4 separate regions of the Homo sapiens genome follow, and all the other regions are linked to region 3. Evidence: fine-mapped expression QTL. A gene starts in region 3. Each other region holds a variant in brackets. All regions are shown on one strand. Distances are between the middles of the regions. Region 1 overlaps PIGK (phosphatidylinositol glycan anchor biosynthesis class K). Region 2 overlaps AK5 (adenylate kinase 5). Region 3 holds the start of AK5 (adenylate kinase 5). Region 4 overlaps AK5 (adenylate kinase 5).

Region 1 (8,000 bases), 110 kb before region 3:
TGTTCTTTCTCCATATATTACTCAGCACCAACTGAAAATAAAACACCCAAAAATTATATAACTCAATTAAAATATATTCATTTAAACATATACCTCCAAGTAACTTTGTTACTATTTTTAAAAGTACTAAAAACTAACAAAGAAGGCAGGCCATGGTGGCTCATGCCTATCAACTCAGCACTTTGTGAGGCAAGGCAAGAGGACTGCTTGTGGGCAGGAGTTCAAGATCAGCCTAAGCAACATAGTGAGACCCCATTTCTATGCACACACACAAAAAATGTTTAAAATAGCCAGGTATGGTAACATGCTCCTGTAGTTCTAGCTACTCAGAAGGCTGAGGCAGAAGGCTCATTTGAGCCCAGGAGTTCACCACTGCACTCCAGCCTGGGCAAGAGAGCAAGACTATGTCTCTTAGAAAAAAACAAAAAACAAAAACAAGCAAAGTAAAACTACCTTGGAGAAAAATAAGTTCTGAATTTAAAACTTTAAATGCTATGTGAAGTGCTGCCTTTAAAAACTACTAAAAAGCTGCAAAATTATTTATCTGGCTGGGCATGATGGCTCACACCTGTAATTCCAACTTCTCAGGAGGCTGAGGCAGGAGGATCACCTGAGGCCAAGTGTTCAAAAACAGCCTGGACAACCTAGTAAGACCCCCATCTCTGGAAAAATAAAATAAATTAGCCAGGCAAGGTGGTGCACACCTGTAGTCCCTGCTACTCAGGAGGCTGAGGCAGGAGGATCACTTGAGCCCAGGAGTTCAAGGCTGCAGTGAGCTATGACATGGCCACTATACTCCTACCTGGGTGACAGAGCAAGACTCCAGCTCTAGCAAAATAAAAAATAAAAATTATTAATCCCTCTGCATAGGCAATTCTGTGGGAAGATACAAAATATAAGAATTTTTAAATAAATTCAACTACATTATTGCAGCTAATCTGTACAACTACTTAGTCAATTATAGATTAACCATGAAATAAAATAGTTCCATGTTCACTACCTGGGTGACAGGCTCAATCATACCCCAAACCTCAGCATCACACAATATACCTTTGTAACAAACCTGCACATATATCCCCTGAATTTAAAATAAAGGTTGAAAAAGAAAAAAAAAAAGTTCCATATATATTTCCCCAAAATTACGTATCTTTAATTTTTGAATGCACTTTGTTGCTCAGATTTTGTTAGTGGTATCTTTAACATGTAAAAAATTCATAACACTTTAAACGAGATTTTCCCAATCTAGAATTTCTATCCCTCTGGGATTCTTTGAAGGCATATTTAAAGTTATAGAGAGTAAAACACTGATTTAAAGCCAACAGCTGAGTCATATATTATGCATATCTACATTTAAAAAGTAGAAAATCTATCCAGTTTTCTTGTTCAACTATTTCCTAGAACATGAGTGTATAAATTGTATGTATACACATTTGTGCGTGTGTAAACTGTTTGATTTACATTTTTCCTGCAAGACAGCAAAATGCTAATTGTTTTAACAGGAATTCTTGTTGGCCAACAAGGAAGGAAAATGTTTGGCCTATATTTTCCTAAAATATGACTAAATAAACAAGTAAAAGGTTAAACATACATATTTAATTCAATGAGCCAACATTTTTGAGTGCCTAACACCAGGCTCTAGGTACTTGCCAGCTATATGATACATGAGACACAGGCCCTCTTAGCTTACAGTCTAGGAGGAGATAGATATGCTTTTAAAATTGCTTCAAAAGTGGTCTAGGAACACACAGGAAATTGTGTCTTACTTTTGGTAGGCTTGGTAAAAGGGGAAGGATTATCTAAGAAGACTTCATAAAAGAAGACTTCAAATATTAAGCGTATTCACAATCTTTTATATTTAAAATGAAGTTTCAAAGGGAGAAAATAGAGTATAATACCATTTTTTACATTTACATTTTTATTTCTTATCACATATTCATAAAAAACACTGGAAGTATATTGAAACTATAGTCACTATAGTTTTTCCACAATTAATACAATTACTAAAACTAATAAACTTGGAATTTTAGGTCAAATATGAAAAATACACATTTACTATAAAATATATTTACTGTAAAAGAAAGTTGACACAGGAAAACTCACTATAATACTCTAACATTGAAGCCAATATAAAGTTTTTCTGTCCTAGATAAAAACATAAAATGTTCATGTTTTAATATTTTACTTATATATCATTGCCTTAATATGAACTTCAGAGAAGTTACATCAAGGCTTCAGTGACAATTAAATTTAAAGAAAAATAATAAGACAATTTTATTCTGCCATTGTTTTAGAGCCTAAAAGTAACAATGCCATTTTAAAAATGTGGCTAGATTAAAGAATTTACCTCGTAACTTCTATAATCCACTTCCACATCATCTCCATACACATTTAGTTCCATATTCTTGTGACTAAACACTGTAGCTGGTTTGGGATTTCTAGGATTACAGGCCATATCATCTGCAAGCATTAGGACAATGTGACTAGGGAAAAAAAATCCAGTAAATATATAATTTAGATAAAAGGAAAAAGTTAAACACAAATTTATTTATATCATGTAGCTACTGTGTTCATTTTTCTCCTCCTTAAAAAAAAATTTTCAACTACATAGTTGAAGGCAATTTAATTATTTTTTTCATATCCTTGTGTACTATATATTTTAAAGTAGAGAAATTAGTGCAATCTGGCATAAAGTTATGAAGGCACTTTAATTATTTTTTTCATATCCTTGTGTGCGATACATTTTAAAGTAGAGAAATTGGCGCAATCTGGCATAAACTTATGAACAGAATTTCAAGTTACAATGTTTTTCTGAACAATGTATACTTTATGCCACATAGCAAAGGGAAGCTAAAGAAACTGTCTTCCTTAAGCATCAAAAATATTTTTTAGTAAAATTTTACATTCTCAAGACTTACAGAGTCCACGTTAAACTATGATGTCCCAAAGAATTTAACTTTCAGAATCCCAAATGCTTGAGTATAAAAACATGCAACTGATCAGCAAGTACAATCAGTTTAGCACAAGAGCACACCTCCAAGCCAATCACTCCTCACAAGATCCACAAATCCACTCCATTTCCCTAACACCAGCAACCACCATCTTCTGGCTAGATGCTGGAATAGCTCCCTACCTGGCATCCTGCTTCTACTCTCACCCTCTTTCAGTTCATTCTCCTAATAGCCCCCAGAGTGATCTTCCTTAAATAAGTCAAATTATTAAATGTTCCCACTTAAAAGTTTCCAAGGACTCCCCATTATATCTTTTTTTATTTTTATTTTTGTTCACCTGCAGTTCCATGCATCCCCATTGCATTTAGAGAGAAACTGCAACTCCTTACATCATCTAAAAGGCTCATATAATCTGGTCTCTGTCTCTCCAACTTCAGCCTCTACCACCCACATTCTCTATGCTACCTCCACACTGGCCTTTCTGTTCTTAGAATATGCCAAGCCTTTCCCACTTAAGTGGCTACTGACCAAATTTAGACTTCACTCCTCCCAGATCTTCATATAATTCCAGCCTTAGCTATGGTACTCTATCTTATTGTGTGTTTTATTTTCTTCAGGACATCTATGAATCTGAAATCCCCATCATCTCCTATCACCACCACCCCCATTAGGATATAAGCTCTCTGAGGGCAGGGGCTATATCTGTCCTGTTCACCACTGTATCACTCATACTACATACTAGGGCCTGACATACAGTATGTACTCAGTAAATAATTTTAAGTGAATGAAATGTTTTAATTTTTGCATATAATTTCTTTAGAAGGAAATAAAATCTCTCTTTGATACTTCTCATCTTCACTCTACCATTAAAACTGGTGAGTAACAATCAGGAAATTCTCCATTCTACCATATCTTGAGTTTCCCAAGCATAAGGGAAAAATTAATGTGGCATACGTAATTAGTTTGGCAGGAGACAGCAAGAAGAAAATGTTCTGCTACATATGTTCCAAATACATTAAAGTTCAAAACTGAAACATTATTTTTCTTGAAAATTGGCTAGATTTCTACTTTGAAAGTGTTCCAACCCTGTCACGTTCAAAGATCAGATCTTCAGCTGTTACTGATTCATTTTCACAGAATAGTGAGTCATTCCTCTTAAAACAGAAAATACATCTTCTCTTTTTTAAAACTTGAGATCATTAATTTACATTAAATAAATATCAATCATATATTCCTTTGTTAAACAAGACTGAATTGACCTCCAAATGGCAATATAAAAATGAATATTTCTGGCCAGGCACAGTGGCTCACGCCTGTAATCCCAGCACTTTGGGAGGCTGAGGCGGGCGGATCACGAGGTCAGGAGATCGAGACCATCCTGGTTAACACAGTGAAACCCTGTCTCTACTAAAAATACAAAAAAATTAGCCGGGCATGGTGGCAGGCGCCTGTAGTCCCAGCTACTCCAGAGGCTGAGGCAGGA[G/A]AATGGCATGAACCCAGGAGGCGGAGCTCGCAGTGAGCCGACATCGCGTCACTGCACTCCAGCCTGGGCAACAGAGCAAGACTCCACCTCAAAAAAAAAAAAAAAAAAAAAAAAAAAGAATATTTCTTTAGGCTATGTTTTCTGTTTAGGGTTAATTTCACTCTGTGAAACTAAATAATTATTCAATAGCTATATAATGTCAATATCAATCAGAAAGAAGTACTAACTTCAACTTAAAATCATAAATGTAATCAACATTTCTCTTAGAGATAATTTTAAGCCTCAATATAAGTACTATGACCTGTTAACATAATCAATATATTATAAAACACTGTACTTGGAATAATACGGAAAAAGAGAAGTTGGGAAACAGAATGGATTTCAAACGTTTTGAAGTCCAACCACATATTCTAATTCACTGTTTCTAAAACTTAAGAAATGTACAGAACTCTTTTCTAGAGAAAAAAATAATTCTCATTTGATCCAAGTGTTAAATTATTTATATAACAGTACTTAAGCATATAAATGCAAACAAACTACGTAGGCTTATAGTTCTTACAAAACTATGAAATCAAGAGAAAATTATAAATTAAATTCTAACAAAACTAGCAAACTAATAATACCCTAAAAACATTAATCCCATTGAAGATGACATTATTTTCCAAAAACTAAATGCCTGCTGCTGTGTTTAACAGAAGAGCTTCAAGTCTGGTTCTACATTTAATTTTTTTTTTTTTTTTTTTTGTATTTTGACATCCTTAATTGTTTAAGCAAACTAAAACGGCCTGATAAGGACTCCATACTTCCATATTTGAGTCCTGGTGGACAAACCACAACCTAACTTAATAGGTAGACAAGATTGAAAACCCAATTTAGGAGTATGCACCTGTAACAATGACTGAGTCTTGGCCAATCCCAGCAGCCATACTTCAACCACCCATATACTGCCAAGTGCTCAAACTGTGTTCAAATAAGTAAAATGCCAACCTGTAACCAATCCAGTTGTTTCTGTATCTCACTTCCAATTTCTGTACCTCACTTCGCTTTTTTTGTCTCTAATCTTCTTCCGCCATGTGGCTGCATTGGAGTCTCTCTGAATCTGCTGTGATTCTGGGGGCTTGCCAATTAGTGAATTGACAGCAACTGACCTGGGTGCAGGATCAAATTTGATCCAGTAATTAACTGACTTGAATCCAGTTAGAGGCTTCTTACATCTGAATGGGTCAGAAAGAAACTGGTAGTAAGTGGTAATATTGCAGGGGCTATAAAATTTGGCTTTTAAAAATTCGCAGGGGCCAGGGGTGGTGTGGCTCACACCTGTAATGCCAGCATGTTGGGAGGTGGAGGAGGGTGGATCACGAGGTCAGGAGATTGAGACCATCCTGGCTAACACGGTGAAACCCCGTCTCTACAAAAAATACAAAAAAATTAGCCGGGCGTGATGGCAGGTGCCTGTACTCCCAGCTACTCGGGAGGCTGAGGAAAGAGAATGGCATGAACCTGGGAGGTGGAGATTGCAATGAGCCGAGATCACGCCACTGCACTCCAGCCTGGGCGACAGAGCGAGACTCCGCCTCAGAAAAAAATAATAATAATAATAAATTTGCAGGGATTTTTGTGTTCTACCCCTTTGTTTCATTTTTCTCGTGCACTTAGGTAGGAAAAGAAATCATTGGCTAAGTTAATCAAGGGAACCCAAGAGCAAAGCCAATATTTTTGGTAAAAATGAGATTCTTAATTTCTGAAGAACTGAGTTCCTTCTGGCTTATACATGCATAAATAAGTGTTAGGCCCCAGAAGCAGTGAAGTCTTACAGAAATGGTGAGATCTTACTAAAGATAACTTACAATAGAACATTCCAAATGAACAACGCAGTGAAATGCATTTAAAACAATGAGGCTCCCAAATTAGTCTCATCTACGGATGCCTACTGATATGCAGAAACTTCTAAAAAGATTTCAATATTTTTATTTAAAGCACACATATTTTACTCTGGCCAGAATGGAAAATATTAGAATTCGGGTCCCCCATACAACTGGTTGGGCAGCAACTTGCAAAATTGAGATAATTTTGCCTGTGGTTCCATTATTTTCCTTTGTGATGCAGTTTGGCCCCCAGAACTATGGTGTGGTAAGCAGGGTCACTGAGGCTACTCAGGGAAGGGGAACCCAGAAACCTGACAAGCCAGCAAAAGGGCAAGAATTTCTTACCAGACTTCTGGCCTCTCTCTGTGCAAACTGGTTAAATGAATGGTAAAAATCACTGTTTAGTTCCTCTGTAAAGTTTTAATTAATGCAAAAAAAGGATTCTGAGGCTATTCTTAAGCTGTAGCAAATTTGGTGTCCTTGTCTTTCTGTATGGTTCTGTTATAAAGAGTACTTTAGGAATATAACATAGGCTTAGGACCCCATAAGCTCACTATTAAAGACGGCCCAGCAAGCTGGTCAATAACAAACGTTGCTGCAGTTCCCTGAAACAAACAAAAAAACTGCCTGAGGTCTCCATCTTGTTTTGTCCTTGGGAGCTTAACTGTGTAATCATGTGGTGGTACTTTCTCTTAGTCTCCACCTTCCAGGGAAAAGGAATTTTGGGGTTCATGTCATAGCTAGCTCCGAAAATTATCTTGAGCAGTTAAAAGCCTTTGCAAACTCAAAATTGACTGCTCTAGACTTCTAGGAAGAGCAATGGAAGCTATCCAATATAGCTCAGTAGCTAAGGCCTTGCCTTTTTACAATGGTGGCCTGAGTTCAATTCCTGGCTTAGGGAACGAGTCCTTTCTGGTTTGATATCTGTATGAAACTTACCATCTGTTGATTCTCTTCCCCTCCATAAACTGTATTACAATTTTCTTTCTCTAAGCGAGAAATATTGGCTGTTTTGCCTGGCTAAAGTGGGGTAGTAAGAAATTTAAAAGGACTTTTATAGAGGGCTAGAGTTAAAAGTCAGCTTAATTAAAAGTGGATATTCAAGCTCTAACAGCCTGGGACTCCTTGGGAAAAGCAGAGGAGGCACCACACACCGTGTTTTGGGAAAAACCTCTGTTTTCCTCAAGAAACCTCAGGAATTAAAAGTGGATAGATCCCTCTCAAAATCTAAGACTCTGTTCTGTTTTGTATTGCTTTATCTGATGTTTCCGACTTTGGGGAGTATCGGAAATGACTTTGCATCACAAGACAGCTTTGGTGTGTAATAATCAGGTAGGAAATATACTTTTAGGGATAGCTAATGGCAGTTATGGGGAGATACTCAGCTCTGCACATTTGGATCAGAGAAAGCATGCTCTTGGCCACCTAGAAGTTATGGAAATGTCCCCACCCACCACTAAGAGATAAGACACCCATGGGAGCTTGGCTGATTCCCCCTTTATGGGATCCAGGATCTGATATAAAAATGAGAATGAGACCCTTAATTTCTGAGATCTATTTTTCCTTCCAGCTGTGCCTGCTTATTATATTAATCTGTAGAAACTGCATGTTCCTGGCCCTGTTCCTCCAAGGACTCCACTCTAAAGCCAGTAATCCGATTAAAAACCTTAAAAACTGGCAAATAAAAAATCTTACAACTACTGG
Region 2 (8,145 bases), 150 kb after region 3:
AAAGCTCTAGGTTCACTGGTGAATTTTACCAAACATTTAAGGAAGAAATCATACCAATTCTCTATCAGAAGATAGAAGCAGAGGGAATATTTTCTAACTCATTCTATGAACCATTCTCTATATACCAACACTAGACAAAGACATTACAAAAAAAGAAAACTGCAGACCAGTATCTTTATAAGTGCAGATGTGAAAATCATCAACAACATATGTAAAAAGCCTACAGCTAACATCATACTTAATGATGAGAAACTTGAAGCTTTCCTGCTTTTCTGCTAAGAAAAGAAATAAGGCAAGGATGTCTCCTTTCACCATTGCTTTTCAGCATTATACATAGAAGCCCAAGCTAATGCAATAAGACAAGAAAATAAAAAGCATATAGATTAAGAAGGAATAAATAAAAGTGTCCTTGTTCACAGATGAACACATAAAATGGGAACTCACTTATTACCACAAGGACAGAACCAAGCTATTCATGAAGGATCTGCCTCCATGACCCAAACACCTCTCATAGGCCACATCTCCAACAGGGGAGGTCACATTTCAACATGAGATGAGATGGGACAGAACCTCCAAATCGTATTAATGACAGTGGCTTTTTAGATATAGCACCAAAGGTATAATCCACAAAAGAAAAAGTGCATAATCTGGACTCCATTAAAATGTAAAACTTCTGCTAATGGTCTGAGCAGAGTGTGTAGAGTTGCTGAGCCCACACACTAAATCTGAAAATGACACCAGATTGACAAAGGTCACACCAAGGAAAATGTGTGCTGTTCCTCTTCTCTGTGTACTTTTTTGTTCATTGAAAATACCTGCTCAACACAGAGAAAACTATCACTTAGGTTCTCAAAACCTGAAGCCACACTTCTGCAGCTTCAGCTATCCAGAGGAACAAATGCCCCATCAATAAAAGTACTGACTTTTTCCCATAGGATGAAAAACCAAAACCAAAAACACTGATGAAGGTGATAGCCCAGGCCTTCCACTCCATTATTAGGCTTATTTGTACCTTTGTCCATTCAACCAGCTTCAAAGGAGGAGGTGTGCAGCTTGTCTTCAGGTTTATGCTCTATCCAAGTTCTTTTTTTTTTAATTTTTTTAATTATACTTTAAGTTTTAGGGTACATGTGCACAACGTGCAGGTTAGTTACGTATGTATACATGTGCCATGTTGGTGTACTGCGCCCAGTAACTTGTCATTTAACATTAGGTATATCTCCAAATGCTACCCCTACCCCCTCCCCTCACCCCACAACAGGCCCCAGTGTGTGATGTTCCCCTTCCTGTGTCCATGTGTTCTCATTGTTCAATTCCCACCTATGAGTGAGAACATGCGGTGTTTGGTTTTTTGTCCTTGCGATAGTTTGCTGAGAATGATGGTTTCCAGCTTCATCCATGTCCCTACAAAGGACATGAACTCATCATTTTTATGGCTGCATAGTATTCCACGGTGTATATGTGCCTTTTCTTAATCCAGTCTATCATTGTTGGACATTTGGGTTGGTTCCAAGTCTTTGCTATTGTGAATAGTGCCACAATAAACATATGTGTGTGTGTGTGTCTTTATAGCTGCATGATTTATAATCCTTTGGGTATATACCCAGTAATGGGATGGCTGGGTCAAATGGTATTTCTAGTTCTAGATCCCTGAGGAATCGCCACACTGACTTCCACAATGGTTGAACTAGTTTACAATCCCACCAACAGTGTAAAAGTGTTCCTATTTCTCCACATCCTCTCCAGCACCTGTTGTTTCCTGACTTTTTAATGATCGCCATTCTAACTGGTGTGAGATGGTATCTCATTGTGGTTTTGATTTTCATTTCTCCAATGGCCAGTGATGATGAGCACTTTTTCATGTGTCTTTTGGCTGCATAAATGTCTTCTTTTGAGAAGTGTCTGTTCATATCCTTTGCCCACTTTTTGATGGGGTTGTTTTTTTCTTGTAAATTCAATGTGCCAGACTCTATATGAGGTGCTGGGGATACATTGGTGGGCAAAAGATGGCACAGTTCCTGCTATCATAGAGCTTATAGTAGAACTAGACAAGAATAGAATAGTCAGAGAAATAAAGTTAAAACTGTGAAGTACTTGGGAGAATAAGTGCATGGTGCTGTGTGTAGATGTGGTTGGTGAGGTGAGGAAAGTCTTCTCCAGGATGGTCTAGATCTCCTGACCTCGTGATCCGCCCGCCTCGGCCTCCAAAAGTGCTGGGATTACAGGCGTGAGCCACTGCACCTGGCGGGCAAGAGATTCTTGAATTGAGATCTGTAAGATTGGTCATAGGTAACCAAGTATGTATGAGAACAGGAAAGAACTGGGGAGAAGAGAAAGGGATGTTCAAAAAGAGGAAATAGCAGGATGAAGCAGGAAGAAGCATGGCATCCAAAAGAAGACCAGGATAGCTGGAGTGCAGATGAGCCTGGAAAGTAGGGCTTTGTAGAGCAGGTTAGGGGTTTTGACTTTATCCTAAGAGCAATGGGGAACCTTGAAGAGTTGGGGTTTCTGAGGAGGGAGGAGAGTGTGTTGACATAATTATATTTGTGTTTATTTTTTAAAACATTTTTCTGGCTGCAATGTGGAAAACACATTGGAGAAAAGCAATCTATGGAGTTCAAAAAAAAAAAACAAAAAAACAAGGCATCTATGGAGTCCAGAGTGGGAGGCTGCAGTGGTCCAAACAAGAGTTGATGGTGACACTGGAGTAAAAAAGGGGACAGAGAGAAAGAGGTGTATTTGAGAAGAACTTGTGACGAAAGTCAACAGGACTTCATGTTGGAATGGATATGGGAGCCAACAGGGGGTGAGCTGTTGAAGATGACTTCTGGGTTTTCAACTGGTACAGCTGGGTAGACAGTGGTGGCATTCACTGAGAAAAGACGAGTTCTGTAAAGATAGGGCATGAGTGTAATTTTAGACATGCTGAGTTCAAAGTGCCTTAACATATCCAAGTAGAAAATTTCAGTGAGCAATTAAATATATAGGTCTGGTGTTCAGAGGAAATATCTGAGCTGGAAATACAAATTTGTGAGCCTTTTTAATATAGATAGGACTTGAATTTGTGAGTGGAGATGAGATAGAGAAAGAAAACAAAATTGAGAGAAGAGGCTCTATAGCTGAACACCGAGGAAATTTAAAGTCTTAGTAGAGAAAGATGAAAGAGCAGAAAGACGTAGAAGAAGCCATTAGAGAGATATGAGGAAAATCAGTAGAATGTGGTGTTCCAAAAGCCAGAGAAAACAGTATTTCAGGAGGCAGGGAGTGCCAAATGTGGCTGAGAAGATAAGGAAGAGAGAGACTGGAAAATAATCATTGAATATAGAAACACGGAGGAAATTGAGAACTTTACAAAGCGCTATAAAGTGAAGACACTTAAGCATGTTTTAACTCACAGGAAAGGTCTACTTGTTTGTGAAAAGGAGAATATACAAGTATAAGAGAGAGGAAAGTCTATCTGAATGTGGTAGGACTGGGTTCTCCAGCCCTGGTGGAGAGACTGGCATGAGACCAAAAGAGTCTCGTGTGGGTTAAGACAGAAGGAACATTGATAGGATAGGAGGATGGGTTTGTATATTTAATGGTGGGAAGTCAAAGAGTTCCTGTAAGATGACTTCCAGAGGCAAAGCCATCTGTTGAGATTTCAGGGTTTCAAGAGAGTAGAAGCCTGAACTGTTGTGAAATCTAGCAGGCAATGTGCTAAGGAAACACAACAGGATTACCAAGCATTTCATTTGATATTAGTGAATTGAGAGCCCATTTGACATTAGTGACTAGAAATTTATTTTGACGAATCAATCATTTTCATTTTTTTCATTCCTTTAGCAAATGTTTATTGGGTGGCCTTAGGTGCCAGACACTCTTATAGGCGCTATACTGAGTGTTGTGGAATTCTAGCAGGACACAGAGAAGGTCAGTAATTTGGTTCACACAGTGATGGAATTTTAGCAAATATGTGGTTCAGAAAGGCAGAGAGCAAAGCATTGGCAGAGTATAAGTGGTAATGAGCTGAGGATTCTAAGCAGTTTAGGAAGGAAGTGGGTAGAGAACAATTAGGAGCCAACGCCCAAAAGCACTAGAAGCATATTTGACTTCTTTAAAAATATAACCCTATGTCACTCTTTTAAATCAAGAGTGCTATCTCTTGGTTTAAAAGAATATTTGATCCTAGCAAATTGTGTCATTCTAAATAACAGAGAGGGAAATTCTCTAACAGAAAATGATATTTATTCAGAAATGGGCATTGCAATAGGAATATGGGTGCCATTGTAAACTATGTGTGTATTCAGGGAGGTAAAGGAAGACAAAGGTCTTGTAAGAAAAAAATGAGGAGGATTACATAATAGTTTTGAGATAATTATCCTTGGCTACAAGGATAAGTAACAAAGGTGGTGTCAGTCCAAGTTTGGAAAGGCAATTGCTGGGCAGATGTCCTCAAAGAAGTGTTTTCTGTGTAAGGTTGTGATGGCCTTTGTGTGAAGTTGTAGTTTTTGCAGAATTTTTTGTGGTAGTTTTGTTATCAAGAACTTGTGCGTGAGAATCCTCCCTTTATGGCCTTCCCAAGCACTGTTTTTCAGCTGTTTTTGGTTTTGTTTTTTTCTTGTTGACACAAGTGACTCTATTTTGATTCTGATAACTTTCACATTTCCCCCCTTTTGATCAA[G/T]ATCTTTTTCTGAAAGTATCACCATTCAATCATCCTGTAGTTAGATTTTCATTGTCCCTTGGTGCCAGGATGTGTCCCAGATTGTTGGTCTGGTCCCATATCAGAAGACGTGATTGGTGAGTAGGAATCTGTGTCAAAAGCGTTCTAGCCACATTTGAGCAACAAGGGAGGCTTGGAGGAAATGGCTCTCAGGCTAAGTCTACCTGGAATTTATTGCTATGTTCAGTTTTGTCTATTCCATAGTATTTTGGCCACAATCTCAAAGCACTGGGCCAGCATTATTCTGTTAGGAGTTGTACTTCTGCAGAAATTTAACAAGCAACAGGTACAAGTTTTAAAAACAAAAATATAAAATAAAATTAATAGTAATATGGTAAATCCAAGTTTGTATAATGGTTTTGAGCCATGAATCCAGTCTTAAAGACAAACAATTGAATAAAGCAAATGACCATTGAGAATTAGATGACATCTGTTGTTACTGTGTGACCCATTTAAAAAATTCTGTGGATATGGGCCTCAACTTCCCCAGAGGAATTTACCCAAGTATAACATGTAGTATTAGTGGAAGCGTAGACTTTTTTTTATTTAAACAATAGATACCTAAGAGGTCATGTTCTTTTAAGTTATGAGCAGAAGCTGCTGATTGTGAAATCTGAATTACATCATTATCTTGCCAAAGAAAAAGGTAAGCATAAGAAAGGAAAAATTAAGAGGGGCAAGAGTCTCATTTTGATGGAGTGTCTTGGGAAACGCTGCCTATAGCATGAAGCCATCAACTTCTCTTGGCTTGCAGTTTGAATTCTCTGCTATGGTATCAGGTGGATTGGTGAACTTTCTGTGTGGCACAAGACTTGTCCTTCTTTTTTCGGGTATGAGACTTGTCTCTTGAAATTTATATCAAGTTGTCTAGCTTCATCTTCTAAGGCGGCAAGCACAGAGCAGTTTTTGCTCTTAGTTGGAGAGTTGCAGCCAAATATTGAAGAAAATTAGGAGAATTCAGGTTCTGATCAGATCTACAGGTAGAAGAGAAGAACTTGAAAACAATGCACAGGGGCACAGCCTAATAATAGGTGTATTATAGTTTTTTTCTTTAGAAACATAACATTCTCTCTATAGTCATCCTTATTTTTACCAAAGATAATCACAGTAAGACTAATTTGTTTGTAAAATATGTTTAGTTTTATCAAATTTTGCCAGCAAGAATAGTGATTTGACCATACGGTAATCTCAAACTTAAAAACTTCTTGAGGGTAGGAAGCCAAACCAAAGCTGACTTCAGACTTTATCTGTAGTACCTATAAACAATTTAAATATGACAATTTAGTCAAAACTTTTGTGATAAAACCAATGTTTCCACTTGTATCCCATAATAAAGAGAACAGATTCTTATCAAACTTAAGTAAACAATCATATTGTCATGAATAGTTTTCCCATTTTGGAGGGATCAGGTAGGAAGAAAAAGTAAATGCTTTCATTTTTGTTCACAAATGTTTACTTTACCAAGCAGCTGTAAACTATAGATGGCTTAAGACAAAAAGTTTTCTTCAATCTGGAAAACAAAACATTGAGGAAAAGAACCAGCAATGTTTCAAATAAATAGGCTATAAAATTTTTTATCAGTTCATTTAATTTCATGTAATTAATTCTTTTCCTGCTTGAGCTTGATTATTAGTTTCATAAATTTATTAGTTTCTTCATTAGAGTTCTGAAAATTTTTATTTAGTACATAATTTTTATTTATTTTATTATCTAATAACTTTGATCTTAAAGTTATTAGAAACTTATATTTAAGACTACTTCTTAGAGTCTTTTCCATGAATCTGATTGAGTATGTCTTTAGAAAAGAACTCAAACCAGTAACCGTGGATGACAAAAAGATAGAAAACAACCGTGGCTTAAAATCTGATGAAATCAGAAAAATAGAGTGCAAAGCATAAATAAATAAATAAATAAATAAATAAATAAATAAATAAATAAAATTTGATGAAAGTTCATGATAACCAGAAATTGACAAGGAAATTTGGTTACTTTGCGGCATACAACATAATAAGAATTCTGACTGATATATTAGATTTCTAAGAGTTTTATATGATCTTGGAACATTCATATCAATAACATACTCATAAATGTAACTGAAAAAAGATCTAGCATCACTTATCGTTTGACAATGCTTCCCATACAATTTACTAAGTAAACCTAATCATTTAATATCTCTATAAGTTGAGAGATACAGTCTTTGAGGCTCTCCAGGGCCCAACTGGAAAAATCACAAAATTAGTTTTAGGTCAGAAAGATTAAACTTAGAACTTGACCCTAGGGAAAACTTTCAAAAACTGTCAAGAGGCTGAAAACACTTGATCAAAATTAGATTACAGAAAGACTTCAAAAACAATACAGAAAGTTCCATGGATATAAAACAAACCAACAAAAATCCTTAACCTTTCCAAAGCTCAGTTTTCCTAAATAATCAAAAAACATAATAAAGACAATGTGAAGCACAGGAACTTACAAAAATCTTCATCTTAGGCCAATTACCAAAAGGGGGAAAGAAAGAAAAAGCTTCCTGCAATATAATTGCTTCTTACTGGAAGCCCGTTTAAATAACCTGGAAGTCTAACCTGATGAAAAACTACTTGAATTTAATCAGACACAAGAAGAGTGGGTCCAGTGGTATGAGTTTACATCATATCATAGAAGAAGTAAACAAGAAAACTAGTACCTTGAGCAGAGGAATACATGGCTCTTTAAAAAAGTGAAAACATGAAATTGCCTGGTTAGATGGAACAATTCAAACATATCAAGAAAAACCAAGATTGCAGAATCAAGATATACTGGAGGGGAACATTGCTTTTCTAGGGCTTCAAGACAAACATTTGAGCATCAGGTCATAACAGCAGAGCTTGAAGTAGAGAAAAAAGTTTCAGGAGCTGACGAAAAAGTTGAAGGAGCGAGTTATCAACCTAGCCAAGCAAAAAGATGTATCCTCTCAAGGAGGGACAGGAAGAGCAGAAGGCAGTGTTGTATGACCTCAAATCCTGTGCTGCAAGATACAGCAAAAATTGTACTTCTGAGATATGAATCTGAAAAGCTTCAAGAGGAAAACTTTACCTCAAGAAATGAAATTACCATCCTAAATGAAGAACATAGCACTTTTAATTTGAAACTAGGGAAAGTAAATAGACTGTAAAACAGAGGCTGGGCATGGTGGCTCACGCCTGTAATCCCAGCACTTTGGGAGGCTGAAGCCAGGGGATCACAGGGTGAAGAGACCGAGACCATCGTGGCCTACATGGTGAAACCCCATCTCCATTAAAAATATAAAAATTAGCTTGGCATGGTGGCGTACACCTGCAGTCCCAGCTACTCAGGAGGCTGAGGCAGGAGAATCGTTTGAACCCGGAAGGCAGAAGTTGCAGTGAGCCAAGATGGCGCCAGCACTCCAGCCTGGTGACAGAGCAAGACTCTGTCTCAAAAAAAAAAAA
Region 3 (8,145 bases):
TAAAACTGAAGCCAGCCTTCTAGTTCTCCTTACCCTCCTCTACTTTTCCTTTTCCCATGGTATTTATCACCATCTAACAACAATTTCATATACTTGTTTATTATATCTGTTGCAAATTATCTCCTGCTCCTAGATAAATGCTCCATGCATGTGTTTTATTCACCTACGCGCCTGACAGCACAGCAGTGCCAGCGATGCCTGGCACACAGGAGATGCACAAGAAATATCTGTTGACTGAATGAATTATCATAAAACACTATTTTCATTGTGACTCGTAAATCATGTATTTATACACCATTATATTTCTAGACATTACGAAGACATTGCTTGAGCTAGATTTTCTCAGCACCTAAACATACTCCTACATGGTAAATCAGGAATCTCTATATATGGCATTTACTCTTTCAAGCCATCATGGTGTAATTTTTAAAGACTTCAACATATTTGTTTTTTAAAATAGAAAGTTTACTTTTTCCTGCTAGGGTACCTTTCTAAATTTCTTTGGCTGAGTCCTAAGCATTCTATAGATACAGCTATAGATATTTTATTCCTCCATTCATCTGTACCTATCATGACTCAGGGAAACATTCCCACCAAGAGTCTGAAGGATGCCTAGCCCTTTGGAAGTCCTAGTCATCATCCCAATGGTTATTCCTTTTTCTTTTCTTTTTTTTTTTTTTTTTTTTTTTTTGGAGCGGAGTCTTGCTCTGTCGCACAGGCTGGAGTGCAGTGGCGCCATCTCGGCTCACTGCAAGCTCCGCCTCCCGGGTTCACGCCATTCTCCTGCCTCAGCCTCCCGAGTAGCTGGGACTACAGGTGCTCGCTACCACTCCCGGCTAATTTTTTGTATTTTTAGTAGAGACGGGTTTTCACCGTGTTAGCCAGAATGGTCTTGATCTCCTGACCTCGTGATCCTCCCTCCTCGGCCTCCCAAAGTGCTGAGATTACAGGCGTGAGCCACCGTGCCCGGCCCCTAATGGTTATTCTTACTCCCATTTCCTCAGCTGCTTCCACAGAACAGACCTGGAGCCTCTGCCCCCTTGTTTCAAATCAACAACTCTGATTTTCGTCATCAGTTATCACTAACTGATATGTTCTTGTTTATGTCCTTCTTTGTATTTTTTAATCACTATGTGATGTTGTCTATGCATTTTTATTTGCTTATTGTTCATCTGCACTTCTTACACACACTCTTCATAGAATTTAAGTTCCTTGACAGCAAGGATCATGTCTGTTATTCACTGCTATATCTCAGAACCTAGCACCCTCTCTCAAGACGTGATGACAAGAGAGTCTATCCGAAGACATCCGACATGCAGTAACCATTTTGATTCATTATAGCTTGCAGGAAAGCATTCCCAAATAAACAAAGGGCCAAGGGCCATGAGCCTTCTATATACCCACACATAGAATTTCATCACAGGGAATGAGAGGCCAGCTTTCCCACAGCAAGGATGTATTTAGTGTTCCTTGTCCTTTCTCTTTCCTCTCTTTTGAACCATTAGCTTGGCTTTTAAGCATTATATCTCTCTCATGTAGCCCCTCCCTACAAAGCCACAACTTCCTTTGCAAAAGTAATTATGAACATCTTCCTCTTTCACGCATCTCTCTCCACCCTGGCACACACCAAAATACACTAATTGTCTCTGCATAAGGCTACTTGAAAACTTGCCGTATCACCATTTACTACATTTTTCAGGCTATCTACAATTTTTAGTGCAGTGCAGTCTTTCTTATCCATTCTCTTTTTACAAGCAAGTTGCCAACACTTGTCCGGTAACACTAAAGTACACTTAGAATTATGCATTTCTTCAAGGGAAGACAGGTGAGCCATGCTCTGCCAGATTCTTGTCTGCAAAGGATGACCTTGAAAAGTCCTGGAGAAACTGGCCTTTTCATTCCTGCGTGTTCACCTCCACTGTGCCTGCTCACAAAGGAAGCCTTAATGCCACGGACCATTGTACTTTTCAAGCATCATTGCATAGGGAAGAGACACTGCCTTCACTACTGCCATAGCCAATCTTAAATAAGCTAAAGAAATACTAGAAGTTGGGACTGTAAGTGAAATGGCATATTCTAAGGGCAAAAACCAATTTCCATGGAACTGAAATACCTGCCTCGTTTAAGGCAACCATATGACACACGGGTTCACAAGTGCTAAAAGTTCATTTACTCCCTCAGGTAAAACAAAGCTGCAGCTGTAGTTAAGGCTTGAGCTGCAGTTGTTTCCGGAACAAGAAATAGAACCAAGAAAAGATCTGCAAAGAAGCACTTGAAATGGACATTCAGACTCTATAGTTTTTTAAAGCAGTGGCAGCGTTGCTTCTTTCTCCAGCCAGACCCCAGATACCAGTGCCTACCAAAGTGTCCTCTCTCACACACCCTCCTACAGTGTTAGGCTTTGTGGGAAGTTAGAGATCATATTCTCCGGGGGCAAGGACTATCTCCCAAATAGGCAATGTGAAGACATCTTAGCAGGGAATTGAGTCATCTTGGGAGCTAGGAGGAAGATGGGTTACACCTTAACAATGGTCTGCAGCAGGAAGATCCATTAACCATTATGCCTTAGCGCACCCACTCATACTCACTCATATTCCCCCAGGGGTGCTCTGATACGACACTGTCCACGGACTGCACACTCTTCAGGTCTAATTAATGATGCCCACCCTCCCCACCTACTAAACACATTTGCAATTTAAGCATCTCTAGCTCTCCACTACCACCCACCTTTCTCCTCCACTGTCCCTTCTTCTCCATGGAGATAATTAACTAGTTGACTACTTATTAGTCCTTCAGTTGATTAGGATTTCAGGCTCACACTAAGGCCTTATCCTAAAGTCTATAAAGATTTGTGACACCGACAGGGTAAAAATTCGAAACCAGCTAGCAAAACTTTCCTGAAGGATAGAGATACTCAAGATCTAAAAATTATCTGAAGGGTTGGATTCCACACCATGAATCCCCTTTTCCCCCTTCCCCACAGCTCCCTATAGTGAAAGATCCGTAACCTTAGGAATAAATGATAAATCCTGTGACTATTAGGTTTTTCCTGGGAGTTCCTCGGAGACCCGGAGGTAACCGTGTATGTGCGTGCGAGTGTGTCTGTGTGCGTACAAGGTCCGGAGAAGCGAAACGGTCGCAGGTTCCTACAGACCCCGACCCTGTTCCCTTGGCCACCTGGTCCCCGGTAGCTGCATCCCTGGGCGGCGCACGCAGTGAAGCGTCGCGCTCTGGCGCCGGTGCCGCACCGAGGGGTATGACTACGACCCCTTGCGCGTGCCCGCCCCCACCTCCGCACCTCGCGCCAGCCCGCGCAGCGTGACCGGCAGCCGCCGCAGACCCGGCTCGGGGAGGCGCGGAGCGCGGCGCGCTGAACCGGAGAGGCGGGCCGGCTGCTGCCTTGCGTTCGCCACGCTGTCCTCCCTCCTCCGCTCCCTGCGCCCCACCCCTGGCGGCCGCGCTGCCTGGCAGCCCGGGAAGCCGCGGCACAGCTGCTCGGCGCCTGCAGCTCCGGCTCGGGGGCTGGAACCGAAGCGGGGGCGGCGGGAGCGCGGAGACCACAGCCCCCGGGGAGAGGCGGAGGGGGTCCCTGGCCTGGGCGGAGAGGCTGAGCTGAGTGCGCGTGAGAAAGAGGGCTGCACCGCTGCTCGGCGCGGACTCTGCCAGCCCCAGCTTCAGCCCCGGCTCAGGTCGCCGCAGCCCGGGAGCCTCCCCGCTTGCGCCCCAAGGCACGCGCGGCACAGCCATGAACACCAACGATGCCAAGGAGTATCTGGCCCGGAGGGAAATCCCTCAGCTTTTTGAGGTAGGGCTAGAGCTGGCCGACGGGCGGTAGCATCCGGGGACTGCATCTCAGGGGTTCGGGTTGAGGCAGCCGCGCCCCGTCCCACCTTCCCCACACGGGGCATGTAATGAAGGGGCTTGTAGAAGCGCACTCGCCCGCTCCCCCGAGGGTAGTCGCCTTTCCCGCGGGTTGCCAGGGTCCTTGTCAGAAGGCTGGGCTTAGAAGCCTGCATCTCACAGATCAAGTTTCAGTCTTCCAGCAGGGTTCTGAAAGCAGCCTGCTCCCATCGCGCCCCTCGGATGTGGACACCCAGGGTGGGCTGCAGACCGCGGCCGGGCCGCACTCTCTGGGGGCGAGGGCCAGGTCAGGTGGCTGCACTGTCGCCCAGCAGCGAGTAAAGACTCGAAACTGAGGGAGCCAGAGCCCTAGTCACTCTGCTGGTCGAGGGTCGGAACCCCTGGGGGAAAGAGGAAATGTGGACGAAGGCAGCCCTTCCTGGAGACAGCTTGGAAGAGAGGGATGAAGATGCAAAAAGCAAAACCCAACCTATCAAGTGCCACCTCCCCGGTGACAGGCCCCCAGCCTTGCTCTGCGCTTTCGCTGAATGAACTCCTGAGCACGTTTTTCCCGTTGCCTAGGAAGGGTTGGGCCGCAGGTTTCGCCAGTGCTCGACAACCCACCTGGAGATAGCGGGTCGGGGAGGGAGCTGCGAGGGGGGCGGACTCCTGTTGCTCAGTCTTCAGACCGCAGCACAGCATCATCTGCACCGGGACCCGGGAATGGGGGGACACTTGGAGACTGAGAGAGAGGAGGCTCGAGGAATGAACCTTGGTCTGTTCTAAGCCACAACCCCTGTCTCAGGTCGTTTGGCTTCCTTTCCTTCTCTTTGTATTTGAATTTAAAAACATTCCTGAATCTCAAGTGCTTTTGCTTGAAGTAGGGGGGAGGAGGAGAAAAGAATAGAAGCAAGCCAGGCTTCCTAAGCGAGCTCTGAAAGGAGAAATCCATTCACTGCAAACCTCGTTCCCCATTTCTGAAAACGGATAGACTGATATCGTAAACTAAAGGTCATGAGGGTTTTTCCCCCCGGTTTGGGGGATTTGTTCTGTTAAAAGGAATTTTAAAGCACCACTTGAGAAAATAATTTTGCCTCAGTTTCCCTAAACTATCTTTAAAATGGGTTGCCATAATTACAGGTCTTCTTTTCTCTCACCTCTATAAGCCACCGTTTTCAGGTCATCTGAAGTCAAGATTTCCAGGTAAACCACTCACTGAACTCAAGCGTGGTATGTGAAGCCCAAATCTAGCAAATGTGTTACTCCTGCGTGAAAATAATTAGGTGGTGTTGCATAAGGACAGGTCTTGAGAATATGTGGGAATCTTAAGAGTTGTTTTTTTTGTTTGTTTTTATTTTCAAAAAGTAAATATGGAAATTAAGAGGCGAAGGTTTTTCTCACAAAGATTACTACTGAGATATATTTCATTTCTACGCTTCTAAAAGAATCATTAAAAACATCTGTAGGAGGACCACGTGATTGCAAAAATTCCTACATAGTACATCTTTTTTTCTTTGTAAATGTGGGTACTGTTTTTCCTCCTTGGTGGAAGGTAACCACAGAGAAGTTTGATAGTTTATTAAAATCTACACTGTGCATGCAAATAAGTTATGGCAGGCCTTTTTGTTAAGGTTTTATGTTTCTTATTTACTTTTCTGCATATGAATGGGATAAATAATGCACACCCAGAAAAGGAAGTCAACTTGCTTGGGTGAAATACAGTAATGGACTTAGATTCACTTGTGGACAATGAGAAGATGGAAGTAGACTGCTGGTGACCTCAAAGGCTACATCCTTCAGTAAGACGAATCTGTGCTATGCGCAGCTCAAGAGGGAAGGAAAATCTGGCAGTTCTCCATGTGATTAGTGTAGACTGTAAAACTAAAAACTTTAGGTTTTTAAAATGGATTTTGCCCACCACAATATTTTAGGTGTACAAAGTTTAACAATTAGCTGTCTACTAAACACCAAGACATTGGCCCCAGCTGTGGATTTTAGACGCTATTACAGACAAACTGACTGATTATTGTATTGACGTATTGTCAGACAAGTAAATATATCTAACTGACCTTTTCAGATTTTTTCCTAATTTGAGACATCATGTAAGCTAAATGGAATATGGGATATCTCTGGTACGTTCATGTTTGAAATGTGTTTCCAGTTTTAGACTTTTTTAAACCCACTTTCTTATTATTTTGTCATGAGTTCTTAATTCTGGCTAACCTTATGGTGTGTATATTGATCTTGTAGCTTACAGCAGAGATTTGGCAATCAATTTGAATACTGTGGAAAGTCAGATTATTCAAGGTCTCAAAGGGTTCACTCAGAGACTGAGCAATAATATGTGCTGGTTGTCTTCAATCCCTGATAGTGGCTGGCTATTAGAAGAAAAGATTTGAATTATCCGTGAAGGAATGGAGCTCATTGTCCCATTTTAAAATCAATGCCCTTTGGTGAACCAGTATTGTTTAAGGACGCTGGAAATGTATATTTTCAGAAAAGAGTCATTGAGAGTGTTCACCCATTTCAGGCAATAGTAGGGATAAAAAGAGGGCATTTTGCAGAGGGCACAGAGAATCTCATGTTTTCTTTTATCTCATATCACGTTTCTGCAACAGGTACAGAGAAGAACATATGGGTTTTGGAATTGGAAACATTGAATTGAAATCCTGGGCCTAGGAGTTTCTAGTTGAGTAAACTAGAGCCATCACTAATATCTCTGAGCCATGATTTCCTAATCTATAAAATGGGGATAATAAAGTCACACAGGGCTGAGAATGCACTGGGTATGCAAATAAATATATGACACAGAGGCTTTTATTTATTAATGAGGCTAATACTGGCTTGGCGTATGGGAAGAATGTGAGAAGCTCAACTGCAATGTGTGTGTATATGGGACAGATTTTGACAAACAAACTGAATTGGATGCCCGGGTAATTTTTTCTGCTCCCTCTGCAATTGAACTTGGCTGATGGAGGTGCACACTCTAGCTTACTCTATTTAGGATTTCAGAAAACAAATGTACCTAGTGAGAATTGCCTACCATTCTGAGGAAATTACACAGGAAATAATTGAAAATAAAATACTGTATTTAAACAGATGTCAGCCCTTCAAAGGGTGTTTTGTATACTAACAATGTATATTGGTAAGAATAATCCTTTATGCATTTTCCATGAAATACTCTAAAGGAAAATATTTTGCACATCAGTCCAGCTTCCAGGAATCAGCATTTCCAAACTGGTAGCATTTTTAGAATCTAGTGCCAGTGACACATCAGACACCATGAACCAAAAAAGTAATAGCAGGATCATGCTTTGTTTCTTTTCCCCTCTGGAATCTCAGTGGATATCGTAGTGACTTACTCTATGTCAAATAGTAATTTTTTTTTTTAGTCTCAGACCTAAATTTTTTTGAGTCTCAGTTAGACTTGAGCTTTGAGGGATTTTTTTTTTCCAATTGGAAAACAGTTAAATATGCACCTACCAAATGCCAGGGAAAGCATCAGTATCTGGGGATTGAAAAATGAATTAGACTCACTCTGTGTTGTTGAAGAGCTTATAGTTTAGAAGAAAGACTATTGCATAACCGAATGGTTTCAGTATAAATGACAAGTATGATGTTTTATGCTGGATACCATGGGAACACAGAAGAAGGGGTTCACAGACAAACCTAGGGATTCAGAGAAGACTTCCTGATAGTAATAATAACTAAAACCAACAAAGTTTATTGGGCACTTACTATGTGCCAAGCATTTAATATGCACTGTACAAATATGAAATTATTTAATTCTTAAAAAACTCTATGAGGTATTTATTATTACCCCCATTTTCTAAAAGAAGAAACTGAGGTTTAGAGACATAAAGGGTGGGTAGGAGTGAGATAAATAATGACCAGGGGCATTTTCACATGCTGCATTTTATCTCACTGTGATGAAGTGAATGGCTCTTCCATTTTAAACTATCTAGTTGCCTGAATTGCTTAAGAGGCAGAGAATGCTGAACTGAAAACTAATTAGGCAAGAATTTAAGGGATTATCTTAATGACTCCATCAGATCGTAATTTCAACTCTAATTGTTTATTAAAAGACAAATGCAAAGGACAAAAACAATCAGAATTCAAAGATGAGCCATAATACTATTTTAACAAAGGTGGGTGGGGTCACGTGCAGTGGCTCATGCCTGTAATCCCAACACTTTGGAAGGCGGAGGTAGGTGGATCGCTTGAGTTAAGGAGTTCGAAACCAACCTGGCCAACATGGTGAAACCCTGTCTCTACTAAAAATACAAAAAGTAGCTGGGCATAATG
Region 4 (8,145 bases), 220 kb after region 3:
TTTTTGGGTCTGCACTGCCTTTATGAGCTGTAACACTCACTGGTGGCTTCACTCCTGAAGGCAGCAAGACCACGAACCCACTGGGAGGAACAAACAACTCCGGACGTGCCACCCTTAAGAGCTGTAACGCTCACTGCGAAGGTCTGCGGCTTCACTCCTGAAGTCCCCGAGACCATGAACCCACCGGGAGGAACAAACAACTCTGGATGTGCCACCTTTAAGAGCTGTAACACTCACTGCAAAGGTCTGCGTCTTCACTCCTGAAGTCAAGCAAGACCACAAACCCACCGGAAGGAAGAAACTCCGGACACATCCGAACATGTGAAGGAACAAACTCCGGACACACCATCTTCATGAACTGTAACAGTCACCACGAGGGTCCGTGGCTTCATTCTTGAAGTCAGTGAGACCAAGAACCCACTGGAAGGAACCAATTCCAGAGACAGAAGTGCCATGCAAAGAGAAGGAATTTGCAGAAGAAATAGAGTTTGAGAGACAGATGAGTTTAGTTTTAAACTTTTTTGTTTGTTGTTGTCAGCCTTTCTCACCCAGGCTGAAGTGCAGTGGTGCAATCATGGCTCACTGCAACCCCGACTTCCCAAGTTCAGGTGATCCTCCCACCTCGGCCCCCGGAGTAGCTGAGACTACAGGCACGCACCACCACGCCCGGCTTATTTGGTAGAGTATTTTGTATTTTCACCATGTTGCCCAGGCTGGTTTTGAACTCTTGGGCTCAAGCCATCCACCTGCCTTGGCCTCCCAAAGCACTGGGATTACAGGCATGAGCCACTGCACCTGGCCAGTTTTAAACATCTTAAGATTGAGATGCTTATGAGATATCCAAGCAGTGATGTACATTAAACAAGAGATTTTTCACAGCTGACACCAAAAATACAAGTTCTGGCTATAGACACAGATGTGAAGCCATGTGTGTGCAAGAAGTCACCCAGTGAACTTAGGGAGGGTGAGGCTGGAAGAGAGCTAAGACCTGAAACCTTCCCAAGAGCCCTGCCAGAGCCAGAGGAGAAGAGCACAGGGAGGAAAGGGGGATATCTAGAGCAAATGGCATCACAGCAGGCAAGGGAGGAAAATTTTCTTCTGGGAAAGGTTCACTAAAGTATAATGAAAATTGTCTGTGGGGTTTGGCAACAGGTGAGTTATTGGTGACTGGTGACAGCAGTTCCAGAGGAATGGGAAGGGGTAAAGCCAGACGGTTACGGGTGACTAGGAAGTAAGTAAATGGGGATCTGTACAGACAACACTTTCAAGAAAGTTGACTCTGAAAGAGTCTGAAAGAGACTGTTTAAAGCAAAGTGAATATTCAGGGTGGAATATTTTTAAAACGAGAGACTCAAGGTCATTTTTATAAAGAGGGAGGCATTACAGGCTCTAGTCAAAAGCAACACTACATGAGTTCGAATGTCGGCTCCTACATGTACAGCTGTGTGACCTTGGGCATCATCCTTCCACTCACTGTTCCTCAGTTTCTTCACCTGTCATGTGGAAGTATTGATTGTGTCTAGGTCATGGGGTTGATGGGAGAGTGAAATGAGTTAGCACATGCAGCAGGGCTCCTAGTGAATACAAACATTACCTGTCACTGTAGGTACTCTATGCAGAGTGAAGGGAGACATCCAATGAGAGGGAGAGAGTCTTGAGAAAAGGAGGATGAGGATGGGTTCAGAAGTGAATTGGAACAAGGAAAGGAACAAGATGAGGAAACCATAACAGAAGTTTAGAGGTTAAATTCCTGTTTGTTTCCTCAATGTTTCTTCCTCAACATTTCTTGTTAAAATTAAACACTCCCTAAGGGACTGAGCTGTTAAGTGGTGTTTCACCTACAACCAGCTGTAGTTGGCTGAGATCAATCAGTTGAAATGAGAATGTGTCTCTGAAGCCCTGGGCTTAAACTTGCCTATATGCTGCCATTTCCTCTAGCTGACACATTCTTGCAGTTGTCAACAACCCAGCCCTGTAGGAGACCATTTTACCATAGGAGATCATTTTTTGCCTTGAAGAATGAAGCAGAGTAACAAGCCAGTGATTAAGGAGTCAGTGACTATTTTGGCCCTCCAAATGTAACACTCACAAAGTATTTCCTTTCCAACTTGCTCCAGGCTCCTCTGAACCAGGAGTCTGAGTGTTTTCTTAGCTGCAAATGAAAACATATTTAAACCAACCTTCAGGTGGTTAAGGCAAAAAAGGACTCTTTCCTCTTGTAACAGAGTGTAGCTGTTTTGCTTTACTGTGACATGTTACTGCGACTCAGGTGATATTTTTTCTCATATTTGTCTGGGGCACTGACTCTGAAGATGTTCCTCCTGGTTCTGCCAGGCTGCAGGGAATCCCTTCAACTAGGAAGTGGATCACGCGTTACTGCCACGCATCCACCCATCACCACCGGCCCAGCGACCTTGGTGTAAAGTGCATTGAACCTATTTGGGCCAGTTGCGTATGACCCTGTTTGGACTATTGTAGTCAATGCAGGGAAAGCTGGTGGGGAAGAGCCACAAGCAGAACACCCTGGTTTTTTTGGAAGTCCTCAGCATGGTCTGGGTGGAGCTGTTGAGGCAAGCACTGAGACTGCCTCTCATTCCAACATCTGCTGTTGAGAAAGGAAGAGAATGTTCAGCAGTGAGAAACCTGGCCGAGGCCAGCCATCAGACTCCTAGAGAGACCCCTTGGGAACCTCTTCAGAGGACGATTTGCTAGAAGGCCAGTGATAGCCAGTTGATTGGAAGGTGACCTTTACTAAATCTCCTAGATGACAGAGACCATGCCCTTTTTCCATTTTTTTTTTTTTTTTTTTTTTTTTTTTTTTGGTTTGCTTCTGCAGCACCTATCAGGATGCCTGGCATTTAGTAGGCATTCAGTATATGTCTTTAGAATGAATGAATGGAAAATGATGAAAGCTCAGATTAAGTTACTTCCCCCCAAGTTCCTCAAACTCAGGTGTGACTAATACAGACCCATTATCAGAAGCAAATGTACTAATCTGTCTTCCAGTAATAACCATCTCAGAGCCATAATGATAAGAGCAGAGGCTTGAGGTAAAACAATGAGGCATGGCTATTTTTAAGAACTAACCATAACTAAGAAACTCTTCCTCTGGTCCTGAAGGATCAATGCGGAGTCTTTATAAAGTCTTTATGGCCCCTTCCCACAAAATAAATAAAACCAAAAAAAGAGATACAGCTTTTGGTAAATTTGGCTTAGTAAAGTAGCACACGGTTTCCGTATTAGACTCAGGTTTTAGTCCACCATTAGGTAGCTGGCACCATGAGGAAGCAAAGTCAAAATACAAAACAGATAACAGTTATATTGATGATACAGGTCCCAAATGTCACCATCCTT[CA/C]AAGAATGGAGTGTGTACTGGAGTTGATGTGTTGATAAAGTGTCCATTAAAGACAAAAGAAGGCAAGGCACGGTGGCTCACTCCTGTAATCCCAGCACTTTAGGAGGCCGAGGCAGGCAGATCACCTGAGGTCAGGAGTTCGAGATCAGCCTGAGTGAGCAACATGGTGAAACCCCGTCTCTACTAAAAATATTAAAAAATTAGCCAGGTGTGGTGGGTGCCTATAATCCCAGCTACTCGGGAGGCTGAGGCAGGAGAAACTCTTGAACCTAGGAGGCAGAGGTTGCAGTGAGCCGAGATTGCACCACTGCACTCCAGCCTGGGCAACAGAGCGAGACTCCATCTCACAAACAACAACAACAGCAACAAAAAAACAAGCAAAGGCTGAATTATCCATCGTTGTGATAAGTACAGTGAAGTTCGTTTTTTGTTTTGTTTTGTTTTTTTTTATGTTCCTACCCATCCCAGAACCTATAATCTGTTCAGTGAAGCCAGAATTCATGCTTATGAAAACTTCAGAGCCCATACAGCGCAGTGTAGAATTAACTGAAAAAGAACCATTCGGTGAAGGTTACCAGGGGTAAGAGGACAAAGAAACCACAATGGTTGGAGTCTCTTCCTAGAAAAGCTGAGAATCGAGGGGAGTCTCAAAGAATGGATGGGATTCCCTAAGTTTGAGAGAGGGCTGAGGAGAGAGGGATTGCAAGCAGGGAGATTCCAAGTTAGGAGCAAATCACAGCAGTAGGGCTATGCCCCTCGTAGCCCAGGAACGGGAAGGAGATGGGCCAAACCTTGAAAGGCCTAGATGCATGAATGTGATGTTGACTGAAGACCAGTCCAGAGCTGGTGAGCAGGGCAGGCAAGGAAACACCAGGAGGACAACTGCCCTCCACGAATTCTCCCATATACAGTCATGCATCACTTAACAACAGGGGTGCATTCTGAGGAATGCCTCATCAGGCAATTTCCTTGTTATGAGAGCATCCTAGTGTGTACTCACACAAACCTAGACAGTGTAGCCTACTATGCGCCTAGGCTACATGGTATAGCCTATTGCTCCCAGGCTGCAAACCCATACAGCATGTTACCATAACAAATAGTATAAATACATAATAACACCACGGTAAGTATTTGTGTATTTCAGCATAGAAAAGACACAGTAAAAATACAGTGTATTATAATATCATGGGACCATCCTTTATGCAGTTCATCATTGAGCGAAATGTTGTTATGCAGCCCTTCTCCTTTTACTTTTTTCTTTTAATACTGTCCATGAATGTAAGGGTGGAAGGATGCAAATATAGAAAAAGGTTTACATTTAAAGTAGGGCTCAGGTCAAACAAAATTAGAGCCCTTGTCTTCTAGTCTTCTCCAAAGAAGAAAGAATCCTGAACTAAAATATCAGCCCCAGCACTGCACAACATCACTAGATAGTGTAAAATCAGAGACTGTGCCTATTTCACTCACTCCTGTTTGGCAGGAGGAGCACAGAGCTCAAAGAGAGGTTAGTCTAGCTTAATTCCCTAATCAAGTCAAGAAGTGAGTCTTGAACATCACTGACAGATAACTATCTAGTCTTGACTTCAGTATTTTGAGTGTCAGGATATTCACTATCCTATTAATAATAGATGACTAATAACAATTGCCCCACTTGGAACTTTGAATCAGTTAGGATTTTGTTTGGCTGAAAGTTTTTAAAAAAATAACTGAAGTTAAACAAGGTAGAAATTTATTTTATGTAAATTTTAGGTACAAGCAGTCATAGCAGTGGTATGACATGCTATGGCCTCAGAGACTCAGGTTCCCTATATTTTTCTGCTCCTTTGAGTGGCTTCTCCAGAGTTATCTCATGTCCCAAATGGTTGCTGAAGCTCCAGCCCTTATGTCCTAAGCCCATTAAAAAGGAAAGAGGAAATGGGGCAGAAGAACTTGCTTCTTCCCTTTAAGGACCTGCCTGGAAGTTGCATTCACCAGTTCCACTAACATCTCATTGGTCAGGAGGACACTTTCACCTGCAAGGGAGGCTAATAAATGTAGTCCGTATTTCAGAGAGCCTTGTGCCCACAATAAAAATCATGAGGTTTAATTTTTTACAAAGAAGGAGAAAGTAGATAACATGTTTCTATGACAGAGTCTAATGTAGGCCTCCTCCTGGAAAATCCAGGAAAAGTGGATTTGGCTTTTAAAAAAAAAGTTTTGATTTTTAATCTTCCCTGGTAGGACCATGCTCACCAAAACAATAGGAAGAAGATGCTCATCTGTGGAGTGGCTGTTACCAACTATGTCCATGGCAGCAGCAGAGTTTAGCTGCACCTCCCAGAGGCCTACAGTTTACTCTCAAAGTGAGAACATAGCAAGTAGGCAGAAGCTGCACCCCTGCTTTTGAAGTCCTTCTTTTGGAGCTGCCCAACAATCCCTCTTGGACTACTCACCAAAGCCCCAGGAATGCCACCCCCTCTCACACCCTGCTGTGGTATAGGTGAACTCAGGTGGCACTGTCCTAGCCTTGAGCCCTAGTAGAAGACGCTGGCTGCATCCACTTGGTCTCCCCAGCAGAGGAGATGGTGTGTTTCTATTGGGCATCTGTTGTCCATAGGAAAGTCTTCCTAAGACTGCGTCAAAACCTGCTCTGTCAGAAATTCCAATATTTAGGCATTTCTGTCTGGTGTCCTAGGCTCTATATCTAGTACATAATTAAAATCACCTATCAGGTTTTTCACCAAAGATAAAAATTGCTGAGAGTTAACATTGTAACATGTAATTAAGACTACTAAAAACCATCAGTTTCACATGCCAGGCCTGTGAGGAAGTGAAATGTGCTTTTAGTAAAAGATTATAAGAAGATACGGGAATGTACATTTTTGCCTAGTTTAGAGGGCTAAAGGATTGTTTTAAATTAGATATGATAAACCTAAATGTTTGAGCAAGTTTTGGAAGGTTTGTGAAAAATTAATTGTAAAAGAGATTCTGTGTATGAACATATTGGCTAAATTTAAAGGGGTATTATTCAGTTTTTTCCATGCTTTTGGAATAAAGCACAACATGGTTTTCTTAGAGCATGGATCTGCTCTTTAACAAGAATTTGTAAAGGGTTATAAAAGGTTTATGAGAAGCTCACCTTATGGTTAAACTGATTAAGACTGGATAGATTTGTCTATAAGGTTTTATTAAAAATTGGGGTGGAGGCCGGGCACAGTGGCTCAAACCTATAATCCCAGCACTTTGGGAGGCCGAGGCAGACGGATCACCTGAGGTCAGGAGTTCGAGACCAGCCTAGCCAACATGGTGAAACCCTGTCTCTACTAAATATACCAAAAAAATGAGCCAGGTGTGGTGGCGGGCGCCTGCAATCCCAGCTACTCAGAAGGCTGAGGCAGGAGAATTGCTTGAACCCAGGAGGTGGAGGTTGCAGTGAGCCGAGATTGTGCCACTGTACTCCAGCCTGGGTGACAAGAGACTGTCTCAAAAAAAAAAGAAAAAAAAATGGGGTTGAAAAAAATTTTTCACTGTTTAGTCTAGTCCTGCCATACAGAGAAAATTAGCTTTCTCTCCACCCTGCCGATTCAAATATTTGAAGACATATACACTTTTCTTGTGATTTATGTCTTCATCCAATTAAAAACATGCAGCTTTTTCTGTTGTAAATTGCAGGTTCCTCAAGAGCAGAGTGCTATCTTCTTGTCTCTGTGTCCCCAGTCCTTACACTGCCTAGCGCATGTGGATTCCTCACATTTTCTTGTGGAATGAATGAATAAATTCTACTTTTATTATTTCCCCCTAAGTCATGTCTCTTTAGACACATGCAGCCCAAATCTCTCCTAAAACAGATTGGCGAGAACATTTTTAAATTTAAGGATTTCTTTTCTTTTTACAAAAAATAATACATCTTCATTCTAGAAAACGTGTATCAACAATAACAAAATCACAAACAGCCCAATACCTGGGAATGAATACTATTAGTATTTTGATTTATATTCCTCTTAGTTTTTTTCTGTGTATATATATATTTTTTTTAATATACATTTTTCATCAGAATGAGATCATATAATTTAAAAACCTACTTTTTATACTTAACAAAACCTCATGGGCATCTTTCCAAGATAGTATTCCTGAATATGCCATGTCATTTTTTAAAGTTCTTTTGTAATTCAACCGAAATACAAAAACAGAAAAGTGCACAAGTCTTAAGTATTCTGTTTGATGAAATTTCACTAATTGGACGCATGTGTCTTACCAAGATGAAGATCAGAAAATTGAACGTGACCAGAACCTCAGAAATCTCCCTTGTGTCTCCTCCTCATCACTACTCCCTGCAAGGACTACCATAGGCATTTTTTAACTTCCATAGATGGAATCACACTATATAACTGTATATATTATTTTCTAGCTGTCTTCTTTCAGCACATCATTTTAATGACTGCATCCTATTCCTTTATTTTGCTGTAATAGAATTTATTCAGTTTATACCTATGATTGTGTTGTCATAATACATTATTTTTTCAACTTTTGCTTTTATTAAAAATTCTGTAATGAATATCTGTGTCCTAAAACAGTGATTTTTTTCTCTTACGGTAAAATTCACAGATATGAATTAAACTTTTAAGATTTGTTTACTTATATTGCCAAATTGCCCTTCAAAACAGTTGTGCCCGTTTTATGTTCCCATCACAATGTGTAAGACTTCCAGTTTCCGTGATGTGGTCTAGAATTGAACATAAAACCTCAGATGTAATCCAGCTAACATTTGCCCTGAATGTCTCACTTCCCTTTACTGTGCACAAATAGACTGC

The links.
Region 1: its variant is fine-mapped to the expression of AK5 in whole blood (TOPMed, PIP above 0.99).
Region 2: its variant is fine-mapped to the expression of AK5 in whole blood (INTERVAL, PIP 0.90).
Region 4: its variant is fine-mapped to the expression of AK5 in whole blood (INTERVAL, PIP above 0.99).

Annotation. Positions count from the first base shown.
Region 1 is chr1:77,166,916-77,174,915 of GRCh38, forward strand. It overlaps PIGK (phosphatidylinositol glycan anchor biosynthesis class K), which reads right to left. Exons shown (of 11, transcript NM_005482.3): 4 at 2,345-2,480. Among named protein-coding and RNA genes, the nearest start is that of PIGK, 49 kb to the right of the region's middle. The variant G/A (reference allele first, on the strand shown) is at 4,432.
Region 2 is chr1:77,427,512-77,435,656 of GRCh38, forward strand. The region is part of intron 8 of AK5 (adenylate kinase 5); the gene reads left to right. It overlaps LOC124904202 (a long non-coding RNA gene), which reads right to left. Exons shown (of 2, transcript XR_007066178.1): 2 at 5,222-5,676. Among named protein-coding and RNA genes, the nearest start is that of AK5, 150 kb to the left of the region's middle. The variant G/T (reference allele first, on the strand shown) is at 4,664.
Region 3 is chr1:77,278,569-77,286,713 of GRCh38, forward strand. It overlaps AK5 (adenylate kinase 5), which reads left to right and starts at 3,451. Exons shown (of 14, transcript NM_174858.3): 1 at 3,451-3,805. The coding sequence starts at 3,746. RefSeq lists a silencer at 3,311-3,370.
Region 4 is chr1:77,497,081-77,505,225 of GRCh38, forward strand. The region is part of intron 10 of AK5 (adenylate kinase 5); the gene reads left to right. Among named protein-coding and RNA genes, the nearest start is that of ZZZ3, 180 kb to the right of the region's middle. RefSeq lists an enhancer at 1-604. The variant CA/C (reference allele first, on the strand shown) is at 3,355.